Linked DNA regions of Homo sapiens: all the other regions are linked to region 3. Evidence: fine-mapped expression QTL. A gene starts in region 3. Each other region holds a variant in brackets. All regions are shown on one strand. Distances are between the middles of the regions.

Region 1 (5,327 bases), 44 kb before region 3:
TATTGTGAAAACTGCTGAAAATGTGGCAGCAATTTGGTGTTTTTATTTTGGAGACGGCTAATGGTGGGAATGTTAATGTAAATAGTGGTGGTAGTGTAAAATCAATTCATTTATCATTCATGCAAAAAAAAGTATTGAGTGCCTGTTAATTGTCACTGTAGATATAAAACCAATGAGCTGTAACCCCTTCACTCAAGGCATTGACAGCTTAGCTGTGGGGGTGGACACACATATGTGTATTTACAGCGCAGTGTAAATAGTTCTCTAGTAGAGGTAGCTCCATATTTCTATGAGGTCACTCAGGCCTTTTGGACTAACTCTGTGGGGATAGGAGTTATATATTCTTATAAAACAAAAGAAAACAGGACAATGTTATAAGAGTAAGAGGTTCTTACTTGTACATAGGCTTACCTGCTGAAAACAGGCCCTTGTTGTACAGATTTTGGGTACATAATTTAACTCTTTTAGTCAATACAAAAGATTTAAGTGACCCCCTCTTTTTTCTTTTTTTGAATGCCATGTAAAGGATTTTTGGTTAAGACCTCACTTTTAAAACTGCCTTAAGTATAAATAGTACCTTTGGAATGTATTTAGTTCATCATTTGAGCAGCCTTCATACTGGTTTCCTCAGCCTTCCTTCAGCCTGTAATATTTTCAGCCCACTGTTTACCTTGTCTCAATAAAAGCTTTCTAATGCAAATTGGAAAAAAAAAAAGAAAGAAAAAGAAAAAAAAGAAAAAGAAAAACTTGTGAAAGAATTTAGCCAGTTTGCTTTAGGCAGACAGTAAGGGAAGGGTCCCCGGAGAATCTGCCACTGGCTCCACAGCATGAGATGCTTTGTGCAGATAAGGGAACTTGCAAAGGGGGATTGCCTAAACATGTCCACGTGGAAAATTCCATTCCGTAACATATGCACAGCAAGGGATATAAATTAATATGGAGTGGCTCAGACCAAGGGCCCACAGGCACACTGGAAGGATGGGGTGGAGCCACCAGAAATTCGTGCCTTACACCCTTGTATTCAACTGTGAAGGGGGCAACTGGCAACTTGCTTTCAGGACCCTTCTCTTTGCTGTGAGCTTTCCTTTTCCTTAATAAATTCTACTCCACTCACTCTCTGGTGTCCACATGCCTAATTCTTCCTGACCATGAGACAGTAACCCGGACTTAGCTGAGTTAAGGAGCAAAAATCCTGCATCACTTGGAAAATCACAAAAGAAAATAAAAGAAGCTCTAACTAGCCCTCTTGCTATTCAGATTGTACTGGTAGTCCTAGCCAATGCAATGAGGTCCAAAAAGAGAGGAAGAGACTGGGTGGGTGTGGCAGCTCATGCCTGTAATCCCTGCACTTTGTGAGGCCAAGGTGGGAGGATTGCTTGAACCCAAGAGTTTAAGGCCACAGTGAACCACAATTGCATCACTGCACTGCACCCAAGGTGATGGGGCAAGACCCCCATCTCTAAAAACCAGATTCCATTTACAATAATAAAAAACTTATAAAATATCCGGGAATAAACTCAACAAAGGAAACATTCAAAATATATAATGAAATAAACAAAAAACTACAAAAATATTAAATAACTAAATAAAATTCAAGTAAAGAAGACAGACACCCTTTTTCAGGATGAAAAGCCTAAATGTTATACAGGTATCAATTTACAAATAATGCAATTCCAATTAAAATCTTAAAGGATTTTCATGGAACTTGTCAAGCTGACTCTAAAATTTATCTGAATCCCCGGAACCAAGAACAGTGCCCAGCACATAGTGGGAGTGTGATAAACATGCTGATTGAATGAATTAGTGAATGAACAGCTTCAATACCATCATGTTAGTCCATTTGTGTTGCTATAAAGGAACACCTGAGGATGGATAATTTATAAAGAAAAAAGAAGACCAGGCGCAGTGGCTCATGCGTGTAATCCCAGCACTTTTGGAGGCTAAGGTGGGCAGATCATCTGAGGTCAGGAGGTCGAGACCAGCCTGACCAACATGGTGAAACCCCGTCTCTACTATAGTAAATGCAAAACTAGCTGGGCTTGGTGGCACATGCCTGTAACCCCAGCTACTCAGGAGGCTGAGGCAGGAGAATCGCTTGAACCTGGGAGGCGAAAGTTGCAGTGAGCTGAGATCACACCATTGCACTCCAGCCTGGGCAACAAGAGCAAAACTCCATCTCAAGAAAAAAAAAAAAAGAAAAAAGAAAAAAGAAAAAGGGTTTAGGCTGGGTG[C/T]GGTGGCTCACGCCTGTAATCCCAGCACTTTGGGAGGCCAAGGTGGGCGGATCACAAGGTCCAGAGATCGAGACCATCCTGGCCAACATGGTGAAACCCCATCTCTACTAAAAAAGATACAAAAATTAGATGGCCGTGGTTGCCCACGCCTGTAGTCCCAGCTACTCGGGAGACCGAGGCAGGATAATTGCTTGAACCTGGGAGGTGGAGGTTGCAGTGAGCCAAGATTGCGTCACTGCACTCCAGCCTGGTGACAGAGTGAGACTCCTTCTAAAACAAAAAAAAAAAAAATAAAGAAAGAAAAGAAAAAAGGTTTATTTGGTTCACAGTTCTGTACAAGGAGCATGGCGCCAGCATCTGCTCCTGGTGAGAGACTCAGGCTGCTTCTACTCATGGCAGAAGGCAAAGGGAAGCTGGCCTGTTCAGGAATCACGTGGTGAGAGTAGAGGCAAACAGGGGGTGTCAGGCTCTTTTTAACAACTCGCTCTTGCAGGAACTAATAGAGCAAGAACTCACTCATTACTTAGAAGACAGCACCAAACCATTCATGAGGGATGCACCCGCATGTGACCCAAGACCTCCCACTAGCTCCACCTCCAATATTGGGGGTCAAATTTCAGCACAAGATTTGGAGGGTCAAACATCCAAACTAAGCAACCTAGATGAAACTGACTCATATTTATATTTCTAGGCCAGATTTATCTTCTGAACTCCAGATCAGTAGATCTGTCTTAGTAATCTCTTCACTTGATTAGTAAGAAACCAATTCAGACTCATTGTGTTCAAAACAAAACTACTATCCCTCTTGCAAACCCTGTGCTCTTCCAGTCATCAAATTGAGTTAAGGTTAAAAACAGAGAGTTAACTCTAATCATCTAATTGGCCATTCGTTTTGTTTGTTTGTTTGTTGTTTTTGTTTTGGGACAGGGTCTTGCTCTGTCCCAGGCTGCAGTGCAGTAGTGCCATCTTGGGTTACTGCAACTTCCAGCTTCCAGTCAGGTGGTCCTCCAGCCTCCCAAGTAGCTGGGACCACAGGCTCACACCACCACACCCAGCTATTTTTTGTATTTTTAGTAGAGACGGGGTCTCGCCATGTTGCCCAGGCTGGTCTTGAACTCCTGCACTCAAGCCATCTGCCCGTCTCAGCTTCCCAAAGTGCTCGGATTATAGACATGAGCTACTGTGCCTTGCCAATTGTCCATTTGTGATTATTGAAGTCATCACAACTACTCCTGGATGCATCTGCTAAATGTTTCTTGAATCTATCTGTGTCTCTCATGTATACTGACACCACCATGTGCCATAATTCCTTCACTATTCTAATGAATAACTTCCTAACCAATCTCTCCTCCTCAAACTCACTATTTCCCCCCTACTGCCCTCCTGCCTCAACTTAAAACAATGTCAGAACTGCAGGCTAGGTGTGGTGGCTCACACCTGTAATCTTCCTCGGGAAGCTGAGGCAGGAGGATCACTTGAGCTCAGGAGTTCAAGACCAGCCTGGACAACATAGTGAGACACCATCTCTACAAAAAAAAATTTTTTAAAGAATTTCCATTGATTTTAGATTAATTCCAAACCCTTCATCATCACAAGTTTGGCCTGGCCTGGCTGCAACCTGTATCTTCAGAGACATCTTCCACAGTATTTGCTCTCGCTCTCTACTCTAAGCTTTGGCCACAGTGACCTTCTTCCAATTCTTCACATATGTTTCTTCCTACAACAGTGCCTTTGTATATGCTGTTCTTTCTGTCTGGAATAATCTCATTTTTCTCTGATTCTAATTAATTCTAACGACGCTTGATATCTAAAAGATCTCTCTTATTCCTATTACGTCTTCTTAAAAAACAGATTATCAGGCCAGGCATGGTGGCACATGCCTGTAATCCCAGCTCTTTGATAGGTCAAAGTGGGCAGATCACTTGTGGCTGGGAGTTCGAGACCAGCCTGGGCAATATGGCAAGACCCAGCCTCTACTAAAAATAAAAAAATTAACCAGGTGTGGTGGCACACACTTGTAATCCCAGCCACTCGAGAGGCCAAGGCATGAGAATCACTTGAACCCAGGAGCTAAGATTGCACTACTGCATTCTAGCCTGGGTAGCAGAGTAAGACTGTCTTAAAAAAAAAAAAAAGAGAAAAAAAAGAAACAAAGCAAAATAACAGATTGATTATCTCTTAATAGTTTAGTTGTAAGTGTACCTTTATGTGGGTGAATTTTAGCCTTTATGTGGGTGAATTTTAGACATTAAGCTCAATCAGAACAGGAACTATGTCTTTTCTTTTTTTTTTTTTTTTTTTTTTTTGAGATGGAGTGTCGCTCTGTCGCCCAGGCTGGAGTGCAGTGGCACGATCTCGGCTCACTGCAACCTCTGCCTCCCAGGTTCACGCCATTCTTCTGCCTCAGCCTCCTGAGTAGCTGGGACTACAGGCGCCCGCCACCAAGCCCAGCTAATTTTTTTGTATTTTTAGTAGAGACGGGGTTTCACCATGTTAGCCAGGATGGTCTTGATCTCCTGACCTTGTGATCTGCCCACCTCAGCCTCCCAAAGTGCTGGGATTACAGGCGTGAGCCACTGCGCCCGGCCAGGAACTATGTCTTTTCATACTTACTATGGTATCCCTAGCTATGACACTAGGAGCTCAACAAATGAATGGAAGAATTGAAACTGAACAGGAAAAATATATGCACAATGACTTGACATGGTAACCAATAAAGGTCTTCATCGAATGAATAAGGAGAAATTTTTTTTTTTTTTTTTGAGACAGGGTCACACTCTGTAGGCCAGGCTAGAGTACAGTGGTGCAATCCTGGCTCACTGCAACCTCTGTGAATGAGGAGAAACATAATCTGGTTCTAAGAAAGTAAGAATCATAGGACCAAAAAACCTGCAAATGTACCATATTTAATTTCATATTTTAAAACTATTTCCAAAGCACAATCCTAGTGTTTACATCAGAGCATTCATTACAATGAAAATAAAACCAGAAAGCATTCAAATATGAGAAGACAGATTCATCTCTGAGGATTATCAGGAATTAATTTATAGTAGAAAATGACAAAGCTATTTCTTACGATGCTCAATAAAGAGTAAA
Region 2 (5,327 bases), 130 kb before region 3:
TGAAATAAACATATGAAGGGGAAACAACATAATGGAAGGAGTGAGAAAGTAGATAAATTAATCTATTTAATATACCTTCTTTAAGAATAGAAATTCAAGGGTTCAAAAAGCAATTTTAAACATTTTTTTTAAATGTATGAAAGCTAAAATGTGTTTTTGTACTGGATGGAGATTAAAGATAGATAAAGTTGATGCCCAGAGGACGACAGATTTCCACTATGCTTTGGGTCCTTGGTATTCAATATGTTTTCCACCCTCTGTCTTCTAAAACTTGCTCTTTGGATCCCAGGGTAACAAATGATGCCCGAGAAAATGAAATGGATGAAAACCTAGAGCAGGTGAGCGGCATCATCGGGAACCTCCGTCACATGGCCCTGGATATGGGCAATGAGATCGATACACAGAATCGCCAGATCGACAGGATCATGGAGAAGGTGAGCACGTGGCAGTCAGCAAGTCCCTACTGCGAGTCACTTCTGAAATGACCAACAGGAAGTGTGAAGGGCATAACAAGATCCTCAAAACACGACCTTGGATTCAGGCGCACTGATAGCTGGAAATGTTCTTCATTTTCCAAGAGAAAAATATAGGACTCAGCAACAGAATTGGAGTGAAAATAAGAGGGTCAAATTTAATCCAGCAAATATTCTCAAAGGCTCCTGTCAGCCAGGCATTGTGCTAGGCACTGTGGGCCATGTACACATGAGAAAGACACCACCCCTACTGCCAAGAAATTCACGGCCTATGGGAGGCTACGAGCCTCCAGATGAATTTTCTATCACTCAAAATATAATTCACTAAGAGATCCACAGATAAAATGCTAAACAAGGTTAGATAAGGAAAGATCTCAAGAGGCAAAGTTCGGGAAAATCTCAGAATAAGTTGACTTTGAATTGAATCTTGAAGGATGGTTAGTATTAATAGTTTGTCAAGTGGAGGTGGTGAAGGGATAGAATCAGAAAATGGGAGAAAGAATAGTCAGTATAGCCAGGACATGATTATGAGCTTTGCTTTTATAAATGCCAAAGCTTTAATGAGAATTCAAAAATATCCAGGTTCCATTTCCAGTTTAACAGTTCACATCCCCAGTTCTAAAAACAGGGAATTTTATATGATGAAATTGAGTTTACACAAGGACACCAGACTTGGCTCTAAGATCCACCATGTCAACGTGGGCCATAAGAAAGACTGGAGGGAGTAGACTGGGAAGGGGTGGGTTTGGGGGCTTAAAATTAGAAGAGATTGGAAAGAAACACTGGAACGTTCCTATAAAGAGACCTAGGGCACCAAAACCTGATATTCTACAACACAGAACTCCGACATAATTTATATTTCCATGTTTCATGCCCTTTCCTCAATCAGTAGGGTCTTGAATATTGATTACAAACTCTTATGTCCAAATGCTAAAAAGGAGAAAAAGAGACATTATAGATTTAACGATAATTGTACATCTATAATCTACTCAATGTGGGTAACTTATGTTGTGTGTTTATTCCCTGGGAGACGTTGAAGTTCTTTGTCTGATATCCTAAATTTTCTTATAATAATTCATTCCATTTTGGTGAGCAGAGAAGGATACTTTTAAGATTTTTAGAATCATAAATCTAAATAGTAGTTTCTTGGTATGCAAGCAACCTCCAATGACTTGAAAAAGGAGTAAGTAGGCATAAAGGGAACACTTTGTCCTGTTGTGTTGTACATACTCCATGTTAAAAATATCTGATTGCATATTTTGCCTGATCAGTATGAAAACTACGCAAACTTTAGTGTTGGTTGGCAAAATACTTGTGCTTTGCTTACTTTTGCAAGTAATGGCATGCTTATCGTTGTTAAGAAGGCTTTCATATGATAAAGCTTTTAAAGCTGTGTAAATCAATAGATATTAGAATAATAATGAGAGTTTCAAAACTCACTAGAGCCAACACAAGCTGACCTAACCCATTACGGCCCAGAATAATGAACTAAAAAATCATTGCTGAGCTGCCCTCCAACAGAAAAAACAATTTGAAAAAAACAGGAAGTATTCATTTTCTATTAATGGACCCACTTTACTTGCAGATGCAGCTAGATAATGCATCAAAGCCAATTAGGGTTCCAGAAGGAGCGTCTTTACTAATAGAAGGGTCAAACTCTTATTGACAGAGTTGAACTTTAAGCAAGAAAATGTGTTCCTGGAAAGGCAAGTGGCATCTTGATTCTGCCACTTTGAATTTCTAGTTCTCATCTTTAGGGAGAAGGTTTTTCTTCTACGCCCAGTGTACTATAAAGACAGAGACATATGCAGCTACAAGGTTTAATCAGAAGCCAGGCAGGTGGATGGATAATGACTATTTCAATTTGTATCATTCCTTGAGTGCAGAATCATTTAAGTGGGAGAAGGGTCTAATTGCCTTTGAATAA[C/T]TAGTTTCCAGTCAGCACTTTAAATAGCCCCTTTTTTTTCCAGAATCAAAATCCACACATGATTTAAATAGAGCCCACTTCAACCCAGCATTGCCCCAAATGATCATGTCGCATGAACTGCACAATTATTAATAGATTTCCACCTTCTCATTGAAGTTCTCATTTCTGATAACGGGACAGTATGTGGAAGTTTCCTGCATATCTAAGATGTAATTGCAATCACACTGTAGGGGTAAGGAGAGTCTTATGATGTTTCTCTCATAATCTCTCATGACCCCAACAGCAACCTTTACCCAGCTCTATCAATCATGATCTTTTCTCATCACTTGGATCAATAGTGAAGTTTTGGGAGTCCTTAACAATGAGATTTTCAATACATCCTCATGGATTGTCAAGAAATTACTTTATTTAAAAATCTCGTTTTCTGCTTAAGGGTATTTATGTATATAAATAATAACCTTATATATATAAATAAATAACTATATATATTATATAATATATAATATATATATTATATGTATATGGTTATTATATATATATAAAAACCATATATAAAAATAACCATATATAGATATACCTTCTAAGGTTAAAAACATAATTTTTTCAGAAAACTTACTGAATTGGAAGCAAGCCTATATCAGAGGGTTTATGGGAACTGTTGCTAAGGAAATACCTTAGCAATGTTCAAACTTTGATTTAAAGTTATCAGTGGTAAGTTAGGCATGCAGTCCCAGCTACTCCAGAGGCTGAGGCAGGAGAATTCCTTGAGCCCAGGAGTTCCAGGCTGCAGTGAGCTATGATCGTGCCACTGCACTCGCACTCCAGCCTGGGCAACAGAGCAAGATCCCATCTCTAATAAGTAAATATATAAATAAAAATAAAGTTGTCAGTGGTAGATGACAGGCACACGTTGGAATACAGTGAGGCTGATTCTTTAGCAGTCCTCACATTCTTCTATCAGTGAGAAAACACAGCATTTGAGAGCTAAGACTTTGAGTTCTAACAGGGTTTTGCCATTCACCAGCTCTGTGACCTGATTGCCTCACCTGAAGGATAGTAAGAGAACTGTTCAAACCTAGGATCAGAACAGGCTGGAAGTATGAACTGGGTTCTAAAAGTCACCTGGCATGGTCTGAAGTTGAAGAGATTCCCGGAGCGTTCAGAAGATGGGCTGAACAGCTCCTTCTAAACTTTTACTGGCTCTTTGGTGGTCATCCTGGCCTTCTCACAAGGACAAACATGTAACATATGTTGGGCACTCCAGCAAATTTAGAATTTTCTAAATAGAAATATAAAAATTGGAATGGGACAGCCATCATAAATAAAGTCCTACAGCATATAAGTAGGGTGATCATAGGGGCATTCTCCAAATACCAGGAAGACATCTACAAGGAGATTCCAGACTTTTTTTTTTTTTTAAAAGAAGCTAATTCTTTTATATAATAAAGGGGCAGTACTTTCTGTGTCAAATATTGCATGGGGTGGAATTTTCATATGCTTCAGAAGTAAGTTAGGTGGAAATCACAGATGCTCATTGAACATAAGTCTGTTTCAGCTCCTCCCAGATCCTTTAAGGATATACAGAGTAACCTCATGCTCTACTTCAAATATCCCCAGGTGAAGGCCCCTCAGTGCATTCTTGTACAGGAGATCCTAGAATGTTTGCGCTCAGGAATGCCATCATTTTAAAATGAATTATTTTTCTCATTTGAGCTTTTCAGAGCATTTAGTCTGGCAACATAATAATTCAATCTACAGGAACATTTCACATTGCTCTGATCCTGTAACTTTCCTTTGCACTGAAGTGTCATTATTTCTGATACCATTTGTAGCTGGAAAGGGAGGGCTTAAGAACCAAGTAAAATTGGTGAGATTATCCATTTTCCAATTGAGAAACCTGAGGTCAAAAATGTGAGTCTGTAGTTCAAAACAATCAAAATCAATGCCCTATCTTACTATGTAAATACTGATTTTAAAAGACAAGTGTCAATTATCCAAACAGATGACAGAGAACCATTGCCAGGTATTCAAAGTTATGATTAATCTGGAAATATGTTTGTTTTAACTTTGCAAATTTCTATTTGAACATGGATAATTCTAATGTCCTGAGAATTCACGATATGAACTGAATACAGAAGACTCAGCTCAATAAAAATTGGGAAGTACAGCACCACAATAGGTACAAAGCTGGTAATCATTGAGTGATACTGGTTGAGAGAAAAACAGTTTGGTTTCCCCACACTGCCTGGCAGCCTCCTCCTCTTCTTCCCAGGCTGTAGAAGGATAGACAGCATTACCAGTCAGGGAAGGACAAAAGAAAAGCCTCCATAGAATCGTTGTCTTCACCTCTGGTTGCTGATGCATTTTTCTCAGTGGTGATGGGAATCATTCATTTTCTGGAATTTAAAGATTTATGCTGGTAGCAGCCCTAGGTTTCATGCTGCATATACAGCAAACATAACCCAAGCAGTAAAGAGATCAACCAAGAGATTAAAGCCAGCCAGTTACAAAATCATAGTAAATGTGCATCTGTTAAAGAAAAGACAGTTATTAAACTCATAGAAATGAATCTTCAGAAATGCAACTTAAAAACTATTAAGCATCCCAGAAGCAAGCCAAGTTCTCATACGGTAACAATAATTGCAAGATAAACTAATGAGCCCTTCGTTTTGCAAAACATTATTCCAAGCACATTATGTGTATAAACTCATTTGATCTCAGCAAATTGAATAGTAAGTGATGAATAGTGTGGACTCTGACTCCAGGTTGCTAGCATTCAGACTCTGGTTTCTCCATTTATTAGTACTAAGACTTCAGACAAATTCCCCAGATCGTTTCTGACTGCTTTTCTCATTTGGAAAAGTGAGCTAATAATAGTACACACTTTATAGTTGATATTGTTAATCTTGATGTTGTCAAAGTTTAAT
Region 3 (5,327 bases):
TTTTTCCTCTATCCTCCTCTGAATTAGTCTCAATCCATTTTTACTTACTCCATCTTTAGTTACGGCAGGGAGTCAAGATCTAGAAAAACTAGTCACTGCCACCCACGATAACAGAAGGTAGCAGCCACTTGTCTTCTCTGCTATATTCCTAGTGCGTAGCAGAAAAGTAGAGAATCTTGTCCCCTTTGGTCCACAGAGGATGGCTTATTCTTCTGCTTCAGCTCTTAGTTCAGATGTCACCTACTCAGAGAGCCTTTCTCTCAGCACTCAACCTAAAGTGTTTTCCCTCTCCCTCCCCATTATTCTCTAGCACGTGATTCCTTCAAAGCCCTACCTTTGTGATGAATGCTGTGATGTGCCACCCTGACCCCCCTAAGGAATGAAAGGCTTATTTCCCCAGCTCCTGGAAGAGCTGAGACAGACCTCGGCTGCCAGCCTCCGTCCATGATTGACTTGGCTGAAGAGAGTTGAAGTTAGGCCCTTTCCAGGGAAACAGACATCTAACGACAGATCAATCAAGGGGTATAAAAGCCTGGCCCTTCTCTTCAACTTTGAAGGGCCAACCCAGCACTAGAGTTCCTGTGGGACTGGTGGAGAACATCCTTGAGACTTCACTGCAGCTTAACTTTTTCTATTGCCCAATCCTGCTTCCTTTCTTCCTTGGTAATCATCCAAAAAGTCTTCTCTAGTAAATGTCCTGCCTCTAAATCTCCTCAGAGTCTGATTCTCAGGAAACCCAACCTAGGACAATCTAGAAACATCTTGCTCAATATCAATGTGCAATCACCCCTCAGTATTTGGGGGATTGCATCCAGGACCCATGATGGATACCCAAATCCAGATGCTCAGGTCCCTGATTTAAAAATTGTGTAGTAGGCCAGACGCCGTGGGTCATGCCTGTAATCCCAGCACTTTGGGATGCCGAGGCGGGTGGATCACCTGAGGTCAGGAGTTCAAGACCAGCCTGGCCAACATGGCGAAACACCATCTCTACTAAAAAATACAAAAATTAGCCAGGTGCAGTGGCGGGTGCCTGTAATCCCAAACTTCTCCGGAGGCTAAGGCAGGGAGAATTGCTTGAACCCGGGAGGCGGAGGTTGCACAGTGAGCAGAGATCCAGCTTCAGCCTGCGCGACAGAGCGAGACTCTTTGTCAAAAAAAAAAAAAAAAAAAAAAAAAATCGTGTAGTTTTGTACACAACTTGCCACCTCCTTCCATGTACCTTAAATAATCTCTAGGCTACTTATAATACCTAATACAACGTTAAATGCTATGTAAGTAGTTGTTACACTGCAGTGTTTAGGGAATGACAAGAAAAAAGGTCTGCACGTGTTCAGTACAGATGTAACCATCTTTTTTCCCCCAGAATGTTTTTATTTATTTATTTTCTTAAATAGAGTCTCTGTCGCCCAACCTGGAGTGCAGTGGCGTGATCTCCGCTCACCGCAACCTCCGCCTCCAGGGCTCAAGCGATTCTCCTGCCTCAACCTCCCAAGTAGCTGGGATTACAGGCGTGCGCCACTGCGCCCGGCTCATTTTTTTGTACTTTTAGCAGAGACCGGGTTTCGCCACGTTGGCCTGGCTGGCCCCAAACTCCTGACTCAAGTGATCCGCCCGCCTCGGGCTCCTAAAGTGCGGGGTTACAGGGGTGAGCCACCAAACCCCGCCGCCCCAAAATATTTTCTATCCGCAGTTGGTTGAATTCACACATGCGGAACTCATGGATAGGGAGCGTATTGTTTCTCCCCCATCACTAGAACATGGAGTCAGGACCGTGCAAGTCCCTCTTGGTCACTGCCGTATCTACTAACTCGGCAGTGCTGTAGACACGTGTATATCTGTTTATGGATAAACTGAAGATGTTAATGAATGAATGAAACCGTCATATTGAGTCTCTGAAACGGCAACAGGATTTGGGTATGGTCTTATCGGGGAGGAAGACGAGCATGACCTTAGAGGGTCATCCCTACAAGGTCCACAGCCCTGCAAGCCCCGCGGCTGCTTTCACGTAGCTGGCAGGGCCACGCTGCACAACGTCTCTAACGCCGTCGGAGGGCGGCCCCCACCTCCCGACAGCCTGGGGTACACCGTGCACCCTCCAGACAGTCAGGGGCACACGGGGCCCCTCCCAGCGAGGGAGGGGACGGGGAGTCACAGGTTCGGCGTAGAAGGCGGCAGCGCAGGTGGGAGCGTGGTGAGGCGCCACTCCTCCAGCTCTCCCCACCGGCGGGAAGACCTCCTCGCCGCCCGCATCCGTGCCGACCGCAACATTTACCATCGGCAGCTATTTCAGAGGTCGGTCTTTCGCCTCCTACAGAGAGCCAGCCTCCTCCTTGTCCCCGCCCTCAAATATCCTTCAGTGAGGACACCGGTGACCTTTGGGGGTGGAGAGGGAGGCGCCTACAAGCCCCTTCCCCTCTCTTCGGCCGGACACAAAGCGGGCTTTTCCACCTAGAGTCCCAGCGCTCTCACCTGCGCACCAGCCGTCGCGCCGCCCCAGGCCGCCACCGCCAGAGGCCCCAGAAACAGATCTCAAGCAGCCGCTGCTGCCGCGGATCCCGACAACCTTCGCGTCGCGCGAGGGCACGGAGCACGCGCAGCTCTGCGGTCGACGCCGGGCCGCCCCCACTCCGCTTCTCCGGGTTTTCCGTGAAGCTCCAGCCAACAGCGGCCGTCACCGGAAAAAACGGGGAGCGAAGTTTATTCAGCGTATATTCCAGCAAATTGTTGAAACTGAAATTTTAAAAGAACGCATAAAATTTAAATAACATATCAAAATGGCACAGCTTCTGCCTTTTGGTGAGCGCTTGACAATGATTTATTGAATGAAAGAAAGAAATAGTCCACTGCGCTCTGCTCTCTGTCCTGACATGACCAATTACAAAGCGCTTGGATTTGTCGCTCAGCGCCAGTATCCCGCCTCTCTGTGCGGTTGTCTGGAAAATCAGGATTTTTACTCTCCCGTAACTCCCGGGATCGGGTTTGGAAAACGGACATGCGCCGTGAGAGCTAGTTGCCTTCTACTAAAGCATCCGCCCTCAGTCCTTCCTGAGGGCTTACAGGGAAGTGCGGAGTTTCGCAGCTCGTACTCTTCACAGATTAGATAATTCACCCGGCATTTCCCCATCCTGCTTCTGGGTTCCAGGACAAAACTTTTATTCTCTTTTAACATTAAAAAACATATAGGAAGTTATGTTCAAACATGGCTATTTTTATTAAAATTTATCCGGCACTGTGAAAGCTACCTTTCCTTTCTCACAATCTTTCGCACCGAATATATGTTCCATTCTTGAGCTAGTCATTTTCCAATGTTAAGAAAACACACCACAGAAAAGCGTTTTTTTTTCTCTCGGTCAGTTCAACTGCCTAGCACCGTGAGTTACCATGATACGTTATTTGCTAATGAGAGTCATTGGGGTCCCAGCCTTTAAAAATAGCCTGCGTCCGGCGCCATTTTTGTTTTGGGCCCACTTTGAAAGCCGCGATATTCTGAACAGAGGCCATTTTTCTTTTGGGCAGATTCCACGGGCCATCGAAGTGTTTCGCTGCCATCTTAAATCCTGGCTGTGGCCTCAATCCTGCAGCGAAGCTGCCCAGATCATTTTGTGTTTGGGCGGCGGCTGAGTTCCCAAACGCGCGCGGAGACCCTGGGAAGGAGGAAGTAAGCGCGAAAGTGCTTCCCTTAAGCTTCTGAAGGTTGGCTGCAGTTCCGGCTACCTGTGTAGTCCGAGTTTCCACAGCCAGGTACTACTCCGCCAGTGACCCTGGACAGTAACAAAACATATAAAGCCCGAGCCCAAACCCCGCCACCATCATAGGTAAGCACATGGACCTCTGACAACCTCAGATGTTCCTTCAAGTGAACTGAACTGTTTGCCCATCTCCTCCCTCCTGGTTTTTGGCTTTGATTTTTTGAGACTTTTCCGAATCCTTCTCCCTGTACTTCCACCTTTCTTCATTGTTTTCAAAAAGCCAAAAAGTTGCTAAACATCAGGATGCCATGAGCATGGGCATTACGGTGGAGATATTATTCAGGAAAGTTAACTGTCTTTGCACAAAGGGAATGCAGTAGATGGGCCAGGTATTTGTATCAAATCATGGCTACCTGCATCCAGCAGTACAAATACCTCCCCCTTCCCAGACATTTTTGGAGATGTGAGGTAAATACAGATTGCGTTTGTATATACTTCCCATTCATTCATTTATTCATTGCATTTCTTGAGTACCTAATTTGTGCTAGGCCATAAGGATTCAGGAGTTAGCTAAAAAAAATCCATTAACTCATGGAGCCTACATTTTATCACCTTGACATCTACTAGGTTGAGACAAATAACAGTATTTTATGGTTCTTAGCACTGCTAGACTGTATAAACAAGTATTTGCTTTCTCCTTCCCCTGAACTATTTTTTTTTATTTTTAGTTTTTAATTTTTTTGGCCGGGTGTAGGAATTAATGGTATTGACACTTACTTCTTGGATCCTAGACATAACGATATTTGTAAGCCAGTTGGCTAGCGTTAAAACTAATATTCCAGTTACTTAGGGCCTTGTTGCTCCAAGTTCATTTCACCTACCACCAGCATCAGCATCCCTGGGAGCTTGTTAGAATTACACTTCATGACTCTCACCCCAGAGCTGCTGAATCAGAATCTTCCTCAAGAAGTGTACCTTAAAGTTCAAGGAACATTGATTCAGGGCATGGGCTAAAGATACAGCCCTTTCTTTCTTTCTTTTTTTTTTTAGATGGAGTCTCGCTCTGTTGCCCAGGTTGGAGTGCAGTGGCGCGATCTTGGCTCACTGCCATCTCCGCCCCCCGGGTTCAAGCAATTCTCCTGCCTCAGCGTTCCCAGTAGCTGGGATTACAGGCGCGCGCCACCACCCCCGGCTAATTTTTGTATTTTTAGTAGAGACAGGGTTCGCCATGTTGGCCGGGTTGTTCTCGAACTCCTGACCTCAGGTGATCCACCCGCCTTGGCCTCCAAAGTCCTGGGATCACAGGCCTGAGACATCACGCCCGGCCTGGCCCATTCTTTGTTCAACCCGTGCTTCTTAACTAGATTCACAGTGTATTATCAATTTATTGCATGTTCTAAATGCAATGGATATTTGACAGGTTTTTTTCTGTGCTTTTAGTTCATTGACTTGATGTTAGGGCGTCAATTTAGCTTTCCAAAAAGTTGAAAAGAGATTTTGTCATCCCAATATACTTATATGTAATTTCTGTTATAACATCTGAAATGTAGGGTTTTCTCTGTAAGTCTTAGCATCCAATTTACCACTGGTTTGCGTTTTTTTTTTAAAAGTTGTTTACTGTGCTTCTTGCTTTCT

Alleles and levels. Positions count from the first base shown, and alleles are read on the strand shown. Sizes are in standard deviations (SD) of each study's normalised expression. Not every link is listed here.
In carriers of allele T in region 1, the expression in visceral fat of the gene that starts at base 2,587 in region 3 tends to be higher than with C alone (moderate effect, 0.61 SD a copy in GTEx).

The links. PIP is the estimated chance that this variant, and not a neighbour inherited with it, causes the effect. A credible set is the group of variants that fine-mapping cannot tell apart.
Region 1: its variant is the best candidate, but not a certain one, in a credible set for the expression of MKKS in visceral fat (GTEx, PIP 0.88).
Region 2: its variant is the best candidate, but not a certain one, in a credible set for the expression of MKKS in tibial artery (GTEx, PIP 0.82).

The regions. Positions count from the first base shown.
Region 1 is chr20:10,387,926-10,393,252 of GRCh38, forward strand. It overlaps the pseudogene SDAD1P2. Among named protein-coding and RNA genes, the nearest start is that of MKKS, 44 kb to the right of the region's middle. The variant C/T (reference allele first, on the strand shown) is at 2,232.
Region 2 is chr20:10,298,979-10,304,305 of GRCh38, forward strand. It overlaps SNAP25 (synaptosome associated protein 25), which reads left to right. Exons shown (of 8, transcript NM_130811.4): 7 at 290-434. Among named protein-coding and RNA genes, the nearest start is that of SNAP25-AS1, 82 kb to the left of the region's middle. RefSeq lists an enhancer at 1,518-2,435. The variant C/T (reference allele first, on the strand shown) is at 2,401.
Region 3 is chr20:10,431,636-10,436,962 of GRCh38, forward strand. MKKS (MKKS centrosomal shuttling protein) reads right to left here and starts at 2,587. Exons shown (of 6, transcript NM_170784.3): 1 at 2,473-2,587. SLX4IP (SLX4 interacting protein) reads left to right here and starts at 3,670. Exons shown (of 8, transcript NM_001009608.3): 1 at 3,670-3,818. It overlaps LOC128706665, which reads right to left and starts at 2,587. Exons shown (of 3, transcript NM_001394148.2): 1 at 2,473-2,587. It overlaps LOC128706666, which reads right to left and starts at 2,587. Exons shown (of 3, transcript NM_001394149.2): 1 at 2,473-2,587. RefSeq lists enhancers at 1-483, 2,434-2,493, 3,384-3,613, 3,774-3,823.